3 linked regions of the Homo sapiens genome follow. The protein of the gene in region 1 purifies or fractionates together with the protein of each later gene. This does not show direct contact. Each region holds a gene or a part of one and is shown on either strand. Other genes may lie near its edges.

Region 1 (2,601 bases):
TGTATTTTTTTTTTTTTTTAGTAGAGATGGGGTTTCACCATGTTGGCCAGGCTGGCCTCGAACTCCTGACCTCAGGCGATCCACCAGCCTCAGCCTCCCAAAGTGCTGGGATTACAGGCGTGAGCCACCACGCCCGGCACTCACAGGTCTTTTTCATCATTCAAATGTTACATAAGATGGGTATAATGATACCTATGTATAATGATACCTCTACCCATCTTAGTTATTTCACAGAAATATAAGAACAGAGGTAGTAGATATTAAAGTGCTTTGAAAGGCACAAGCACTAGGAAGATTAAAGTTTGCTACTAGGTAGTCTGGGACAGAGAGAAAGACCCTAGAAGTCTTTCCCAGTTTCTTGGCCCTTACCAATGGCTCTGGAGAGGTTGAGGCCCCCGTTGACTCGCCCATCCATGGTGACCTTGCCACCAGCATTCTTGATGCGTGCTAGTTCTACTTCATCCTCTGGTTTGTGATCATAGGACATGTCTAAAGCTTTGCCAGCCTCAGATACCACACAGCGAGAGTCTCCTGCGTTGGCTACAATCAACTGCTTCCCTCGTATCAGGGCCACCACCGCTGTTGTACCACTGTCAGAGCCAGGCTTAAGAGGAAGAAAAGGAGCATCATGGGGGCTTCTGAACATGCGTTCCTCACTGATGTGCTCCTGATCGTTCACCTATGCTTGCTTTCACTGGGACCCCCAAAAGAGCTTTAACAAACAGGAGAAGCACACATTTCATCTTTCTAGAGACAGCAGCACACTCCCTCTCCCTTGTTTTTAGATAATTCAACCCCAAAGGCTTACCATCTCATTCCCCTTGCAGAATAAATCCCCATGACTATTACTTCCATCCTAAAGTATCAGGGGGATCCCCTGTCTCAAAATCAAAATTAGGGGATTCACACCTGCCTTGTGGCTTTTCAAGACTCATTGCTCCCCTTCCCCACACACCTCCTCTTTGCCTTCCATCCCTGGCACCATCATCTCTTCTTCTTCTTCTTCATCGTCCTCTTCAGCCTCCTCGGTGTCATCCTCATCTTCCTCATTCTCTGCCTCCTCACTGCTGTAGCCATCCTCTTCCTCGCTGCATTCCTGCCAGGGGGAGGATCCCAGACTGCTGAGACTGGGATGATCCCCTCCCTCCCCACAGCTCATACTCAGAATCAAGAGGTCCTGACTGAACACAGGTCCTCAAAACACTGAAAGATACAAGTATATGGTCATGAAAATTGGGGGGATGGAAAGGGCTAGCATGAGTACAACTGACATCCTGAACTGGGCTTAGCAGTCACTAGCAAAAAGCCCAGGACAAGGCAAGGGCTGCCAGCCAAAAATATCTTTCAGGCACTGTGGCCAGAAAATAAATTTTCCAGAGAAGAAAACAGTCAACTAGCCAAGGTAACAACTATCTCCTTGTTCTCTCTCTAGGAGACAGACTCTGAAAAGCCAGAACTAGATCTGCTTGTTATAGTACCAACAAAGGAAGAGGTAAAAAGGCAAATGGTACCTGTGATGATGGAGCTCAATGAATTCAAGACTAAAGCTTAGAATACAGTGGGTCTTGGGGGATGATGTCAAAATAGGAGAAGGAAAGAGAGTTGAAAACTACAGACGGCAACCAAACAGGACCTCTCTGCAACTTCAGCATCTGCCTGCCCTCACAGGCCCTTACCTCACTGTCTTCCTCTTCTTCCTCCGCCTCATCTGACTCATCCTCACTGTCCTCAAAGAACTTGGACTTAGCAACTCGAGGCAGCTTGTCAGAGGCTGAAGAGCAGGAAGGCCCAGCCTCACCAGTGGGAATGCCAGGCTCACCAACTTGGCCTGCCTCAGTCCCACGTTCCGAGTTGGAGGAAAAGCCTGTGTAGGCCTTGGCTGTGGGGCCATTTTCTTGTGAAGGAGTTTCCCTAGTTGAGTCCTCAGGTCCTGCCTCCCCATTGAGGCCCTGGGACCCTGGTTCCTCGCCTGTCCCACCTCCAGATTTGCTGTGGGGAGGGCCCTTGTGACAGTTCTGCCCGTAGCGTGTCAGCAGCTCTTCAATAGTCATGGTAGCCTCTTCATGCAGCAGTGCAGCCTCCTCATTGTCCACTGCAGGGAAGAGGCTAAATCAGAGCCCCCATGCCAGACTCCTCATGGGATCCGTCCCTCTCACTACCTCAACAGCCCTTGCAGCCTCTAACTTCCCCACAACCTCCCACTCCCAAGGTTCCTCTCGCTCAAGTCTCAGAAGAACATGCCCTAGCTCCTCCTCCTCCACAGACTTCTTTTGGTTTTTGTGTTTCATCCCCTTCTTAATCAAAACAACACTAGTTACTATACTTCCCCTCTGACGTCTCATTTTTTATTGTTAAGTTGTAAAAACCCTATTCTGGCTGAGGATCCAGGAAGCCCACAATGCTACTGTGAATTAGGATTTAGGCTTAATGATTGGCTATTGGGGCTAATAACTGCTCCAGTCTTGAGGGGAAAAAAAAGCACATAAATACTAGCAGGAACCAGGAAGACCCCATCACAATGACAAAAGATAATGTATATACAATGCTTACAGCTCAGATGCCACTCAACGAAGATAATTCTCTCCCTCCTTTTCATAACCA
Region 2 (3,655 bases), on another chromosome or scaffold:
GGAGTTACCTGTTTGTATGGTGAGTCCACATCAACATTTAACAGACAACAGTCACTGTGTTATTGAGTGGTGAATATAAAAGCTTCCTACTTATGTAGGCTCACATACATACAATGTCTCACTGACTACTTCTAAATTATCATTAGTATTTTCCAGAGAAAAGGAAGATTAAAAATTAAGTTATATTTATTTTGTTCTGAGTGCTGTTTTGGGGATGATTTCTTCTAAGTTTCCCACTCACTTTTCAAAACCTTTTGGGAAACTAATGCCCAAGAATACAGCTAATAAGTGACAAAGCTAGAAATGAGGTCAAGCCACAAAAACCATGCTTTTCCCATTAAACCATTCTGAAGCAAGCATAAGAAAAAACTGTCTTGAGTCTGTTTTCTTTTATTTTTAGAGACAGGATCTCTCTGGACTTGAACTGCTGGGCTCAAGCAATCCTCCCACCTCAGCCTCCCAAGTAGCTGGGACTACAGTGATTCTCTTTTCTAATATTATTTACTACATTTAACAACCATGCAACAGGAATCTTAACCAAGTCTCCAACTTGTTCATCCAATGTAATCCCAGGGTTTTAGTAGTATTGATAAAGTCTGATGACATCTTATTTTTGATGATGTGCTGGCATATAAATATTTATCAGTGAGCACTCACCATTCCCTAACGATCGAGTCTGTTCACAACTTCTCGAACTGTAGCTATGAAGTTTTCATTGTCTTGGGGATTAGCTAAAATAATACTGTGCAGTCTGTTCATATATGAGTCAATGGTGTCCACTGTAGGTGTCTCTCCACTTCCTGAAGTGAGATAAGAAGAAAGTAAGAAAATCCTCCCTATTCAGTTGTACCATAAAACACAATTTCAAAGAAACAGTGATTCTAATGTGGTCTGCTCCACAGACATGCTTTTAATTTTAGAGGAGAGACTTTTAGATCTCAAAGAAATGAAATTAGTCCACATACTCTAAATAAACAGATGGGCTATATAATTGCTGTATAGTATATATGAGCAGCTGCATGTAACAGAAGGTTAGACTCGCTCAGCTTTCTGCTATGACTATCTTCAAAATGAAAGAGTATATAAGAAATACCAGTGTTCATTCTCCCTTCCTTCCCGTTAAAACAAAAACAACTAAAAAGCAAACAAACATACATAAGAAGAAACACTCTCAAGATTTACTACTCAGTTTCCAGTGTTCTGAATAGCAAATTAAGCTTAAAAGAGGGGAAAATAGATATTAAAATATAAATGGACAAAAATTTGAATGACCAGAGAGCCTGAAACATTGGACGATTTTAGCCAATACTGACATTCTATTATATCCAGAGAAGAAAAAATGTAGTTTAATTAATTTTCCTCTGGAGGAGATTTCAATCTCTCCACACCAGTACTAACATAAACAGCACCCCACTCCACACAACACACACACCCCTGTCACTGACAGTTCTCAGGCAGGAGGACTTACCAGGCAAGGGCATGCTGGCAAAGCTGCTGGTCAGCACCTGCCGCAGGGTCTCCAGGTGCTGCTGTAAGACTGTGTTGCGGCTCCGCTCCTGGATCACATCCACCTCCAGCTTCTCCACTGCTGTGCGCATGCTCTCCACGTGCTTTTGCAGGGCTGCATTCCTCTCCTCAAACTCCATGTTGGATTTGCGAAGCTGGCGGAGCTCTGCTTCCCGAGCTGAGGACATACATCCCACAGAACACATGCAGCACTAGAAGGAGTCTCTGAGGAGTCCCAATGACTCTTACAGGGAAGTTCTGCTTAGCTGCCTCTAATTTAGCTACCCCACCTCATCTCCCTATTCTCATTATGGCATTCCAGATAGCAATTTCAGCAATGAAACGCCTGACTCCCCAGAGCTATTTTAATTCTTAAAGCTAGTCACATTCCATACATAAGATTGCAACAAACAGTTTCAATTCCCAGTATTTTTTTGTTTGTTAGTTTTTGCTTTTTAAATTGTACAATCAGAAGCCTGAGGGGTTTTGCAGGGGGATCCTGGGAGACTGGCCAAGCACAGCTGTAGGTACCCATCTTTACCACAATGGGATCAGACTTGCTCTTACTTATTTTATATTTTGGACTCCCATGTAAGTTTTTATTTGTGCAAGGGGTTCCAGGCTAAGAGTTTGAAGACAAGTGAATTTGTGATTTGCATTTATTTCCTTTCATCCAGAGACCAAAGAAGCTTTGACAACAATGCCCTAGCTTTCCTTCACTGGTCTTTGAGTAGTCCTAAGGAGGGATAACACTACCATTGCTTTTGAGCAATGAATTTCTTCTGAGAACTAAGTCCCCTGTCAAAAATCTGAGAAACACAAAAAGAAACTTCAGTAATCACCTTTGCTATGGTTCAAGAATTCCTCTGTAAATATAGGGATGTCAAAAACAGACCGTTCCTTTACCTCTGTTTCTTTCTGTGAATCAAGAGGAACAAAACAGTTAATTCTTAATAGAAGATAAATTAAATAATAGTGCCTGAAGACAATGATCATGTCTTCTTTAAAGAAAGAATAGGGTGAGCAGGAATCAGTCCAGGTGAGTCTGTGAGGGAAATGTATTCATCTTTTCATTGGAATCCAACTTTCACAGAGCTTAAGCAGGTAAAGTATTCACTTCTCTCAGGTATACAACTACTGTGCAATTAGAAACCTTAAAACAAAGTTACGTAAATTTCCCTAATGGAGAATTTGAAGCCATTTCTTAGCCTTGTGTTTTGAATAGTCAACAGTATACAGTTGTGAAAGTGATTGCAGTGGGAATTGAGAAAGAGTAGTTTTTTTTCAGTCACTTTTGTTGGTTATGCATGTAAAATGCTCCCTGAGATAAGATTATGCAATATAAATTTGCAGAGTGGACAATAAGAATTTTAAGCAGAAATGTAACTGCTATGAGCAATAATTATGATATTCCATTGGTACTTCTATTTACTTAAGAGAGGCAGCCTATCTTTGGGGTCTTTTAGATTTTCTTTAGACACAGGAAAAATAAACAAACAAACACATGAGACCGAGAAATCAGAAATAACCAGGCTCTAAAAATTAGAAAGCAAACGATTATGTGAGATACAAAAGAATAACAAAGCCTAAAATTAATTCACCAATAAGCCATTAAAAATAAAAAAGCCTCACAAGATCATTGCAAAATATATTCCACAATGATCTTTAAGAATAAAGTCAATAACTCAAGATGCTTTGGCTGTCGTTTCTAAAATGAATTTGAAGTTGAAAGCATTGTGAATATTAATTTTAAGTGTGTTGGCATAATGTTCAAAATTTTCCATAACAAAGGTGGTAAAATGGCAGGAAGTGAGAAATGAAGAAACTGCTAGTGAAATCTTAAGATCCCAGGACCTTTATAACATGAAAAACATGCAAACATAATACCTAGATTTCATTCCTATAAACAATTGTTTAAAGCTAGACAGAATGTATCTTTCCTACTCTTGTCACCACTAGCTTTTTTTTTTTTTTTTTTTTTTTTTTCTGAGAGGGAGTCCCTCTCTGTTGCCCAGGGTGGAGTACAGTGGCACGATCTCAGCTCACTGCAACCTCTGTCTCCCAGGTTCAAGCAATTCTCCTGCCTCAGCCTCCCAAGTCACTGGGATTACAGGTGCCCACCACCATGCCTGGCTAATTTTCTGTATTT
Region 3 (3,755 bases), on another chromosome or scaffold:
TGAGTCGAGACCACAGGCACTGCACTCCAGCCTGGGAGACAGAGTGAGATTCTGTCTCAAAAACAAAAACAAACAAACAAACAAAAATTAGCCAGGTCTGGCAGTATGTGCTTGTGGTCCCAGATACTTGGGAGGCTGAGGCAAGAGAATCACTTGAACCTGGGAGGTGAAGGTTGCAGTGAGCTAAGATTGCACCACTGCACTCCAGCCTGGGTGACGGAACAAGATTCTGTCTCAAAAATAAATAAATAAATAAATAAATAATAAAACAGCATTCTGTTCTGTGGTTCACTTCAATTCCTCCTAAAAGAACCAGCTGCATGCCTGCTCAGGCTCAGCTCACTGGACGCTTGTGTTGTGGAGGGTGACCTAAAGCAGAATCTCTGAAAAAGAGCATCAACAAAGACTTACCACGGGACAAATAAATGGCTGCCATTCTCTGAAGCTGATGGTGTGATGATGTGCATCCCTTCCTTGATGCCAAGATCACCTCAGGCCAGCTTATGAATCTAGGTGGATAGAGGCAATCTCCATTCCTCTTTGTACAGGGTTATTTGCGGTCCTGTTCATATCAATCATCAAACAACAAGCATGAAACATCAGTCATCAAACATTATGCCTGAGCTTTGTCTCTGCAGGTGACAGATGTGAAGGCCACCAAAAATTGCCCACTCAGTACCGTCACTCAGTAACAAAAGTATTAATAACAGTAACTGACATTTACTGAGGACTGATATGTCAGAAGTAGCTCTAGTAGCTTTATATATACATGCTCAGTTAATTATCATAGCCATCCTTCCCAGTAGCTATCATTACCTCTATCTATCTATATCTATCTATATTTATCTATCTATATCTATCTATCTATATATCTATCTATATCTATCTATCTATATCTATCCTATCTATCTATCTATCTATCTATCGAGACAGGGTCTCACTCTGTTGCCCAGGTTGAAATCCAATGGCACTAACACAACTCTCTGTAGCCTAGACTTCCCGGGCTCAAGTGATCCTCCCACTTCAGCCTCCTGAATAGCTGGGACCATAGGTGCGTATCATCACTCATTATTATTATTATTATTTTGAGACAGAGTCTCACTCTGTTGCCCAGGCTGGAATGCAGTGGCATGATCTCAACTCATTGCAACCTCTGCCTCCCAGGTGCAAGCGATTATCAGGCCTCAGCCTCCCGAGTAGCTGGGATTTCAGGTATGCACTACCATGCCTGGCTAATTTTTGCATTTTTAGTAGAGACGCAGTTTCGCCATATTGGCCAGGCTGGTCTTGAACTCCTGGCCTTAAGTGATTCTCCCACTTCAGCCCCCCAACTAGCTGGGACTACAGGTGCACACCACTGGGTCCGGCTAATTTTTTGTAGTTTTAGTAGAGACAAGTTTTCACCAGATTGCCTAGGCTAGTCTCAAACTCCTGGGCTCAAACAATCCTCCTGACTTGGCCTCCCAAAGTGCTGGGATAATAAGCATAAGCCACGATGCCTGGCCCATTACTTCTATTTAATACTGAAAAAAACCTACACTCAAACAACCCTAGTAGTCGGTCTGATACTTGTCCCTAGAGCCTGATCTCCTGTATATGGTGTTACCCCCCCGCCATATGACCAGAAGACAGTGCAGACCTGCACAGAACAATTCAGTAGTCACCAGCCACGTGTGTTATTGATAACTTCATTACGTACCTAAGATGACTTAAGAACAAAATCTAAAATTTTCAAAAGTCGGCCGGGTGCAGTGGCTCACACCTATAATCCCAGCACTTTGGGGGACCGAGGCAGACAGATCACCTAAGGTCAGGAGTTCAAGACCAGCCTGGCCAACATGGCAAAACCATCTCTACTAAAGATAGAAAAAGTAGCCGGGCGTGGTGGCACTTGCCTGTAATCCCAGGTACTCGGAAGGCTGAGGCAGGAGAACTGCTTGACCCTGGAGGCAGAGGTTGCAGAGGTTGCAGTGAGCCGAGAGAGCGCGCAGCCTCTCCGAACTGGACGCACAGGGAGGACTGATAGTCCCTGGAGAAGCGAGTGAAGTGAAGCGGATCTGAGAGGCTCCTAGGCGACAGCGCGCAATCATTCCTTTGCCGCCCCCTGCTATCCCCGGGACCGCCAAGGAGGTGGAACTCACCACAGCCTGGGCAGACTCCACCACCATAAAGGCGAAACCGCACTGACGGAGAGGAGCCAGCGCCGGAAAAGATGGCGGTGGTGCGCTGACGTCACTTCCGCTTCAACACTCTGGCCGGGCGAGGCTCGTGGGCTCCAGTTTCAGCCACGTAGGACCGGGTAGAACACAGAAATTCTAGTTTCCTCTCGGGTGGGTGCAGAAAGGGCCTGGGGTTGGCTCAGGGAGGGGGATGCAGAACTAGGTCCAGAGAAAAAGGTGAGGTTAGAACCGGGCCTCCAGACGGAACTGTGGGCGAGGGGAGGGGCTCGTACTCGGGGGGTGATTTAGAGGAGGGACCCGGCCTAGCCGGTGGTTCAGGTGGCCGGTCGGGCTGGAAGGGCGGGGATGAGGGATGGGACGCATCCCCGGGGGATGCTCCTCCAAAGCTTTTATCGGGCGAGCGCAGTGGCTCACGCCTGTAATTCCTGCACTTTGGGAGGCTAAGGTAGGTAAATAGCTTGAGTCTGCTGGGAATGGGTGCTCGCTTGGTGTCACAAAATCAACACTGAGACAAAGGATCTCAGCAAGGCTAGTTTTACTTTCTGCAGAATGGGTGCCACTGGCTGGCAGTCTTGCCACCAGAGCACACATTAACAAAGGAGACAGGGTTTTTTTAAACTTGAAGTGTCCATCCTTCTGCTGTGTCCAGCTTCCATTGGCTGGAACGGGACCTCACCTTCCTGTACTTCACTGGATTGGCTAGCAACTTAGAACTTCCCAAAAGAGGCAATGGCAGAGGAGAACAAAGGAAGAGAGGAAGTAACTTGTGGACTGTTGAGAGAGGCAAAAACACTTCTAAATAGGGAAAGGAATAGGCCATGACCTAATAGTTGCTTGGACCAGTTCAGGCATGCCAGGGCAAATATCTAGGCTAAAATGTGGGAGCTAAAAACAGAGTCTATTGATTTCTTTATTACGGCTGGCAGAATTTAACAATATTACCACAGGTCTTTGAGAAAATTTGGCTTCTAAGAGGGATTACTATTTATTTCAATCAGACTGGGAGGAAAGTCCCTTTGAAGAGGAACCTGTATTTATTTCATTTTCTACAAGTCCAAGAGTTTGAGACCAGCCTGGGCAAAGTAGCAAGACCCTGTCTCTCTCTCTCTCTCTCTCTCTATATATATATATATAAACATATATGTATAAATACATATAAATATATAAATATATAAAAAATATATAAATATACATGTTCAAAATGCTTGTTCCCTGGTGCCATAAAGAAATTAGCACTTGAACATAAATTTAATTTACTCAGCAAGGCCATTTTTACTTCCTGCAGAAACGGTATACTCACCAGCAGTTTTGCCACGAGAGTACACCAAACAAAGGAGATAGGGTCATTTATAACCTGATGCTTCCAACCTACTGCTGTGTCCAGTTTCCACTGGCTGGAATGGGACCTCACGTTCTGGCTAGCAACTTATAACTTTTTAAAAGAGGCAAGGGTAGAGGAGAACAAAGGAAGGAGGAAGTAACTTGTGGAATGCTGAGAAGGGTCAAAACATCTTCAAATAAGGAAAAAGAACAGGCTATGCCCTAATGCTTGCCTGGACCAGTACAAGCATGCCA

The links.
Region 2: the proteins of PPM1G (region 1) and HMG20A purify together in Homo sapiens (affinity purification with mass spectrometry, with the first as the bait; one large-scale study listed by BioGRID). This does not show direct contact.
Region 3: the proteins of PPM1G (region 1) and ZNF561 purify together in Homo sapiens (co-immunoprecipitation; one large-scale study listed by IntAct). This does not show direct contact.

What each region holds. Positions count from the first base shown.
Region 1 is NC_000002.12:27,382,997-27,385,597, forward strand, and holds part of PPM1G (protein phosphatase 1G), read right to left. Parts: intron 2,093-2,601; coding exon 1,677-2,092; intron 1,097-1,676; coding exon 956-1,096; intron 605-955; coding exon 370-604; intron 1-369.
Region 2 is NC_000015.10:77,476,324-77,479,978, reverse strand, and holds part of HMG20A (high mobility group protein 20A), read right to left. Parts: intron 2,425-3,655; coding exon 2,349-2,424; intron 1,685-2,348; coding exon 1,469-1,684; intron 801-1,468; coding exon 664-800; 3' UTR 658-663; exon of another isoform or gene 1-657. UniProt on the Homo sapiens protein: Plays a role in neuronal differentiation as chromatin-associated protein. Acts as inhibitor of HMG20B. Overcomes the repressive effects of the neuronal silencer REST and induces the activation of neuronal-specific genes.
Region 3 is NC_000019.10:9,619,021-9,622,775, forward strand, and holds the start of ZNF561 (zinc finger protein 561), read right to left. Parts: upstream 2,213-3,755; 5' UTR 2,142-2,212; exon of another isoform or gene 1,896-2,141; intron 563-1,895; 5' UTR 468-562; coding exon of another isoform or gene 437-467; coding exon 412-436; intron 1-411. UniProt on the Homo sapiens protein: May be involved in transcriptional regulation.